Homo sapiens: one gene and its partner. The protein of the gene in region 1 interacts with the protein of each later gene in a pairwise test. Each region holds a gene or a part of one and is shown in the gene's direction. Other genes may lie near its edges. The genes, in order: UFD1 and NGFR.

Evidence for each region.
Region 2: the proteins of UFD1 (region 1) and NGFR interact in a two-hybrid assay, tested with the Homo sapiens proteins (one large-scale study listed by BioGRID and IntAct).

Annotation. Positions count from the first base shown.
Region 1 is NC_000022.11:19,455,000-19,459,009, reverse strand, and holds part of UFD1 (ubiquitin recognition factor in ER-associated degradation protein 1), read left to right. Parts: intron 1-870; coding exon 871-939; intron 940-2,091; coding exon 2,092-2,157; intron 2,158-2,375; coding exon 2,376-2,423; intron 2,424-3,241; coding exon 3,242-3,330; intron 3,331-4,010. UniProt on the Homo sapiens protein: Essential component of the ubiquitin-dependent proteolytic pathway which degrades ubiquitin fusion proteins.
Region 2 is NC_000017.11:49,494,042-49,498,092, forward strand, and holds the start of NGFR (tumor necrosis factor receptor superfamily member 16 precursor), read left to right. Parts: upstream 1-1,251; 5' UTR 1,252-1,376; coding exon 1,377-1,442; intron 1,443-4,051. UniProt on the Homo sapiens protein: Low affinity receptor which can bind to NGF, BDNF, NTF3, and NTF4. Forms a heterodimeric receptor with SORCS2 that binds the precursor forms of NGF, BDNF and NTF3 with high affinity, and has much lower affinity for mature NGF and BDNF.

The DNA of each region.
Region 1 (4,010 bases):
ACATTTTATTATAAAATAAGCTTTATAGTAGATGATTTTGCCCAACTGTAGGCTAATGTATGTGTTCTGAGAATGGTTAAGGCAGGCTGCACTATGATGTTTGGTAGGTTAGGAATATTAATACATTTTTAACTTATAAGTTTATGGGACTTGGTTCCATCATAAGTCAAGGAGCATCTGTACAGTGGTATTAGTGACGTTGGTATGAGCATTCTTAGAATTTTCTCATTGGGTATAGCTAGTTATTTACTTAGAATAAATTTCGAAGGCCGAGTGCGGTGGCTTATGTCTGTAATCCCAGTTCTTTGTGTGGCCGAGGTGGGCGGATCACCTGAGGTCAGGAGTTCGAGACCAGCCTGGCCAACATGGTGAAACCCCATCTCTACAACAATACAAAAATTAGCCAGGTGTAGTGGCACATGCCTATAGTCCCAGCTACTAGGGAGGCTGAGGCAGGAGAAGTGCTTGAACCCTGGAGGCGGAGGTTGCAGTGAGCCAAGATCGCACCACTGCACTCCAGCCTGGGCGATAGAGCGAGATTCTGTCTAAAAATAAATAAATAAAATAAATAGTAAAGTTCCAGAAGTGAACTTTCCAGGTTAAAGGTTGTTAGTGTCTTTTGCAGTTAGCTGTATAACTACCTTGTCTAATTTGAACCATATCTGGGGAACAGCATCTCTTCAGCGATGGGCACAGGGCAGCCTGTCCCTTATGGCAGTGTTGTCACAGCAAGAAGTGCAGCTGTAGGTTGTGTCATGGGCATGAATGCTGTGTCATTCGCAGGAGCCAGTAGAGCCACAGTAACATGGACAGCGACAGCTCCAGTGCTGCCAGGAAACCATCCAACTGATTTCTGTGTTTGCCCCACAGATCTACGAACTGCGTGTGATGGAGACCAAACCCGACAAGGCAGTGTCCATCATTGAGTGTGACATGAACGTGAGTGGCTCTGTCCAGTTACAGTGAGCCTGGGCCCTGGGAGGATGGGCAGTTGGTGACCACTGCAGGCCAGGGTGTCAGGAGGGCATCAAACAGCCCCTGGGACTCTGGGTAAAGAGGAGGAAGATGCTGTCAGAACATCATGAGGAGACTGTGACCTTGTGATCTATCTCAGGGCCAGTTGGGGCAACAGAGTTTGCTGCCAGTGCTGCCATGGTTAGCTCTGACCCGTTGAGGAGTGAATATTCTTTTTTTTTTTGAGACTTAGTTTCACTCCTGTTGCCCAGGCTGGAGTGCAGTGGTGCGATCTTGGCTCACTACAACCTCCACCTCCCAGGTTCAAGCGATTCTCCTGCCTCAGCCTCCCGAGTAGCTGGGATTACAGGCATGTGCCACCAGGCCCGGCTAGTTTTGTATTTTGGTAGAGACAGGGTTTTACCATGTTGGCCAAGCTGGTCTCAAACTCCTGACCTCAGGTAATCCACCCGCCTCGGCCTCCCAAAGTGCTGAGATTACAGGTGTGGGCCACCGCGCCTGGCCGAGGAGTGAATATGCTTAAGAGCTAAGGAAGCGTACTGAACCTTCTGAGTAGGAATGAAGTGCTGATGCACACAGCATCCTGGTTGTATTACTAGGGAATACTGCTGAGCAAAAAAAGCCAATCCCAAAAAGTTACTTCGTTATATAACATCCTCAAAGTGACAGAACTTTCGAAATGGAAGACAGACCAGTGGTTGCCAGGGCTTAGGACTGGTGGAGGGGGCTGGGAGACAGCTGGGTATGGTTATAAAAAGACAACATGGGCAGTCCTAGTGGTGGTGAAACTGTTCTACATCTCAACTGTGGTGGATACATGCCCCACACAGTGATTACATTGTGTAGAACTAAAGATACCCATGAACAAAAACATGTAAAACTGGGGAAATCTGAATAAGAGCAGTGGGTTGTGCCAGTGTTGATATCCTGGCAGCAATACTTTACTGTAATTTTGTAAGATGCTACCGTTGGGAAAACTGGGCAAGTGTACAAGGCATCTTTTGTATTATTTCTTAAAACTGCATGTGAATCTACAGTTGTCTCAATTAAAAACAAAAAAGGAAGCCAAGGGTGGTCATGTCTCAATATTTTACTTTTAAAATCCTGGAAACACAGGTGGACTTTGATGCTCCCCTGGGCTACAAAGAACCCGAAAGACAAGTCCAGCATGAGGAGTCGACAGTAAGTGTTATCCTCAGTGTCCTTTGCTGTCCTGCTGCATGCTGCTTTTGAGTTCCTGGCAGTGGCTCGTGGGTGGCCTCTGCTAGTGTTGGTGTAGTCATATCCTCTGCGTCCCTTCCAGCCATGCTTCCGGGGGACATCCTAGCCGGGGGTGGGGGTGAGAGGGAAGCTGGGTGTCCCCGCTGAGGAGCTCACCTGTTTTTCTTTTTCCCTGTCAGGAAGGTGAAGCCGACCACAGTGGCTATGCTGGAGAGCTGGGCTTCCGCGTGAGTACCAGACCACTTGACTTATATTGCTGTGCCCTCTGCTCCTTGAAATTAGAGCACTCACTCAAGGTGTTCTCCATGATGCTCGATGGACATCAGCAGGGGTTAGGCCTCTGGGTACCTGTGCATATGCAAATCTGCCACTCGCTCAGTTACCAAACCCTTTTGTATCCACTCTCTCCTGGAATCTTCCCAACAGCCCCATAAGGCAGCCCAGATTTTTAAGAATTTCTAACCTACCGAAGAGTTTAAATAGTACAGTAGACATATACTGTTCCCTTAGGTTCACCAAAAGTTACCACATTTGCTTTCTCTCTCTTGTAAATCATGTTTCCTTTTTTCTTTGCCTGTACCATGTAGGTTGCAAACATGACCCTTAGCATAACTACTGGCAAGGCTCCATGGGAAACAGGTGGAGGTGGTTCATGTGTGGGCACTGAGGTGGCAGGAGGTGCCAGGAAGCAGCAGAGAGGGCAGAATGATGGGAAGCTGAGCTATGGGGCAGTCACAACAGTAGCCTTAGCCCACCCATAGAGCTTGAACTGGGTGGCCCTGCAGAGGCAGGGATCAGGTCTTTTAACCCAACACTGACTGCTGGCTGCCCTTGGCCAAGTGGCTGTCTTCAGCTCATGGCCACCCCCTGAGGAACTGGGCAGAGTTCTTAGCTGCCAGCACCCCAGCAGTTGAGGAGTCAGGGCTTCAGTCCTGAAGGGGTCTGCACAGCACCCCCAGCTCACATCCCTGCAGTGATCTCCAAGCAAAGGACATATCGTCCTCACACTTGGGCTTATTATATGACTCACCTACTTCCTGTCTAGGCTTTCTCTGGATCTGGCAATAGACTGGATGGAAAGAAGAAAGGGGTAGAGCCCAGCCCCTCCCCAATCAAGCCTGGAGATATTAAAAGGTAGGTCTGTCCTGGCTCTCCTCCAGGACAGGAGGAGGATCTGTGCCAGCCCGCTGGGGTCGGGCAGCCTCACCCCAGTTCTGGAGACAAAGCCTGGGTCAGTAGTCTCCCAAGGGACTAAAACCCTTAGCTGCTCTCCTTGGTGGGGTGGAGCACAACATGCCCCTCCTTCCACAGTGCCACCCCCAGTACCACTGTGGTCCAGCCTCTCTCCATACCTCTCCATACCCCCAATTCAGCCTCTTCTTGCCCCCACTGGCTTTCCTAAGATGCGAGTCTGATTAGATCTGTCTCTTACTCAAAACCTTTCTGGTCCCTATTTGGTGATCTGCCTATTTTCCTGTTTTGTGACTTGGAATTATTAATCAGGTCACATTATCTCAGTTCCCCTGAAAGTTCCCTGAGGAGCTACCTCAGATGTGCTTCTGTTGCTGGGTCCGGGGACCCACAGCAGACCCTTCCTCTGGTGGCCATGATGGCAGGGGCAGGGCTGAGGTGTGTCAGTTGTCTGTTGTGTGTGTGAAATCAGAATACTGGAGTGAGAGTCTAGCCACCTCAGGGGGTTCTGTGAAGCTCAGGACAGTGACAGTGAGGGCTTCCCAATCCTTCAGATGACCCCTCTCCATAGACAGGTACAGAGCCTAAAGCCCCTGGCCCTATACCCAATATTGATACCAAAC
Region 2 (4,051 bases), on another chromosome or scaffold:
CAACTCTGTGCTCCAGGGTCTTGATGTCTGGGAACGAAGAAATGGAGGGAACAGGAAAGGGGTAAGCATGGGGGTGGGTGGCATGCTTTTGGGGTTGGGAGGCATATTATTTGGACTTGGCAAGGTTTCTAGGGCAAGATGAATTTGGTCCTAGCACATGGATGGGTACACAGATATGAGTCCATTTCACCACTTTTCTATTTATTCCCTTCTACAAAACTTTCTTGAACCCTACTGTATACCAGGAATTCAGAGAAGAAACCATAATCCCTGCCTGCAGAGCTCATAAGCCCATGGAGACACTCACAGTCTGGTGAAGTCTATATTGTTGAAGATGCATCTGTTTGTTTGTTGATGGGTGTCAGTGTGTGTGTGCACTCATGAATGTGTGTGTTTGTGTGACTGTATACATGTGAGGGCTTATGCAGACACGACTGTATACATGCATGTGTGAATGTGTACATATGCGCGTTTGAATGTCCGGATCACATATGTGCCCGTGTGCATGCCTGGAGAGGTGCATGTGTGGGACAGTCAGGTCGGCAGGAGTGCATGAGAACGGTGTGGGCACACGTAAGTGCACGATCACACATACAAGTGAGCTTGAGAGTGTGTATTCCTGTGCACTGTGTGCACACCTGTGACCCCTTCAAACCCCTCATTTGAGAATCAAATGATGTCGGAATGGACTCCACCTTGAATGTCGATGGCCGAGGTAAGGGCGCCTGCGCCCCTCCCCTCCCCCTAGGCCTCTGCCCAGGGATCTCCTGCACTGGGAAGGGGAGGGGTGGGGATGGGGTGGAGGTGGGGTGATGGACTGAGATGAAGGGCAGGGAGGGCAAGCGGGCATTCTTACTGATAGGGGGCAGTTAGGGAGCAAGGCTCCAGGGAGAAGGTGAAGCCAGAGGCGGAGGAAGATGGGTAAGAGAGTGAACCCTGTGGCGGGCCGCAGCCGGAGAGGAACAGGAACCGCAGTGGGGACGCCCTGGTCCCCGGGCCCACAGCATCCGGGACGGACGCGCAGTAGCGCGGGCCGGGAACTGGGTACCAGGGCGGGATGGGTGAGAGGCTCTAAGGGACAAGGCAGGGAGAAGCGCAGCGGGGTGCGGGGAACCGCACGCCCTCCCTTTGCCTCTGCTTCCCACCCCGAGGCGGCAGGGCGGGCGGGCGCGGTTCCGGGGGTGGGCGGGCTGGGCGGGGCGGAGGCGGGGCCGCAGCACTGGCTTCACCCAGCCTCTCCCGCCCGCAGCCAGAGCGAGCCGAGCCGCGGCCAGCTCCGGCGGGCAGGGGGGGCGCTGGAGCGCAGCGCAGCGCAGCCCCATCAGTCCGCAAAGCGGACCGAGCTGGAAGTCGAGCGCTGCCGCGGGAGGCGGGCGATGGGGGCAGGTGCCACCGGCCGCGCCATGGACGGGCCGCGCCTGCTGCTGTTGCTGCTTCTGGGGGTGAGTGTTAGCCGGAGGGGGCCCGCTCCCTTTCCCGGGATCAGAACTCCGAGAAGAGCCGGGCGCCGCCACCAAGGAAACAGAACAGAGCATTGGGGTCCCAGATACTGAGGGTGGGTGGTGGGAAAGGACCTCTGATGCCGGGACCACGAAGGAGGGTCTAGGGTTCCCGGAGCGCAGAGGCGACTCTCCAGGGTGGAGATGAGGGCAAGACCGGAGCACGGATGCCGGTCCTCAGGTACCGCAGGGGGCGGTGGGGGAGCTGGGAGGGGTCTTTCAAGAGGGGGCATGGGGCTCTCCGATGCCCAGGTTCTTCGGAAGAGGACACTCGAATGCCGGGATCCCGAAGGGACTTTCCCCTCAGCATCTCGGTCTCTGGAGAGTCGTGGGACAGAACCAAGGCGAGAGAAGGAGGGGGAACTGGACGGGGACTAGAGATGAGAGGGGCGAGCTGGGCTGGGGCGGGGAGCCCGGGACGACGGGATGGAACAATGGAGGAGGTCGGAGGGACTGGAGGCAGAGGGGACCCGGCAAGGACAATGGGGACCGGCCAGACAATGGGGGGGAGGGGCGTCGGAGGGAGAGGTTGGGGAGCGGGAGAGAGGTTGAGAAGTGGGTTAGGGAGGGCAGAAGAGGGGCGACGGCGAGGGCGGCAGAGAGATGGAAGCAGAAGGAAAGGAGACAGAGCGGGGCGCGGACCCTGAAGTGGTCGGGGTCCCGCCTGCCCGCTGAGGGACAGTGAGACGAGAAGAGAGAGCAGAGGCTTGGACATTTCCAGCGCCTGTCCCCGCGCTCCTGCTCGCGGCCTCTCCCAGTCCCGGAATTGGGGCTGCGGATCTAAGGCTGGGAGGGGAGTGCCCACTTCGCCGGGGCGAACCCGCTCCCGGGGTTCCCCCACGGCCGGCGGGCTCCTCCGACGCGCGTGTTCTCACGGCTTGAAGCAGCGCAGCGGATCGCGAGGGACGGAGCGGGTGTGCCCCTACCCGGGCTGGCGGTGGCTACGTCTCGGGGTGCAGAGCGCCGGGGCGCACTAGGCGGGGACCCTTCCTGGCCGCGCGCAGCTCTGGCTACGCAGGCGGGAGGCGGCAGGCAGGGGGCGCTGCGGGGCGAGGCAAGTGCAGTCCGCCGCTGCCTGCCTGCGAGTCTGGGGCTGCGCGCCGCTCCCCACCTAGCTGCGCGACCCGAGCGCCGCGCCCACCGCGCTCCGTGGGCTCCCGCGCCTCGAAGGGTCGGGATCCGGTCTGAGCCTCTCCTGGCTCTCGGTGCAAGCCGCTGGGCACCTAACGAGACGGGGGCGCCCGGACGCCTCGGATTCTGTAGCGCGGTATCCCGGGCCACCGACTCGGCAAAGGTCGGCGGGTCCTCCGGGTGGTCCGACGAGATTGTCAGATGTGGCCTGCTTTATGGCCATGAACCGAATGCCCTGGAAGGTCTGGCAACGGAGGAGGCGTCTTCACTCTCCCCGCCAGCATCTTTCATCAGAGCACTGCGCCCCAAATTCCGGCTTTACAGATACGGAGACTGAGGCTCTGAGAGTTTAAACGACTTGGCCAAGATCTCACAGCAAGTTGGGCCAGAGTCGTGGCTAGACTCCCCGACCTGATTCCCAGCTCGGTACTCCCCCACCTTTTCAGGGGGCAGCCGCTGTCCCAGCTCGGGGTCACGGCTGCGTTTCCCAGCAGGGCGGGGGGGGTTGACACTGTCCCCAGAGTCCGTCGGCGGTAGAGCCTGCGGGTGAGGTGGGCAGAGATTCTGTCCGGGTGCGGGCCCCAGCCCGAAAGCTCAGCCCCAGTTCCCTGGAGCTGTCAGGACCTGTGGCTGCGTCCGGGGATTTGGGAGCGACCGCGGGCACGTCTGCTGACTAACGCCGCTGGTTAGAGACGCTGCTCAGACGCGGGTGGGCGAGCGTAGACCAGGAGAGCGGGGAGGAGGGACCGGATCCCAGAGGGGCAACGACTTGGGCTCCGGGTCTGGGCAAGAGCGAGGGTCCCCGCGCGAAGACCCAAGGAAGGAGGGGAGCTGGGCGTGGAGGACCTGGGCGCTTGGGAAGGTGTACCCCGACAGGAACCTGCCGTCTGCAGCCCCTGCGGCTCCCGCCTCCGCCTCGGCGCGCGGCTGCTCGGTCTGGGATGGCTGTGCGCGGTCCGAGTTTCTTCCTGGGCCGCGGTGAGAGAGAGAGGGCTGAAACCAGAGCGCGTCCCGGCGGGTCGGCTGGCGGGCCGCGCCGGTAATGGAGGCACTTTGTCATTCAGACGTCTGTAACCAGAGCCGCCGGGCTGGCTAATGCGCCTAATAGGGATGGAACGAGGGCAGCAAATGGGCGTGCGTGAGCGGCCGGGCTGAGCTGGGTGGATGGTGGATGGGGAGGCAGCTCCGCGGGGGACGGGCCCCTACCGCACTGTTCCAGCCCAGTCTGGCTCAAGCGCCTCGCTTCTTCCCTGGGGGACCGCGTGGGGAGGCGGGAATAATCGCATGTGCTGAGTTCCTACTAAGTGCCTTGCACTTCCCTGGTAGTTTCTCTTGAATTATTTAATCCTTATAAGGTCCTAGCAAGGTGAATTTAGTTATTCCCACTTCGCAGTTGAGGAAACAGAACCTTCTAGACTTTC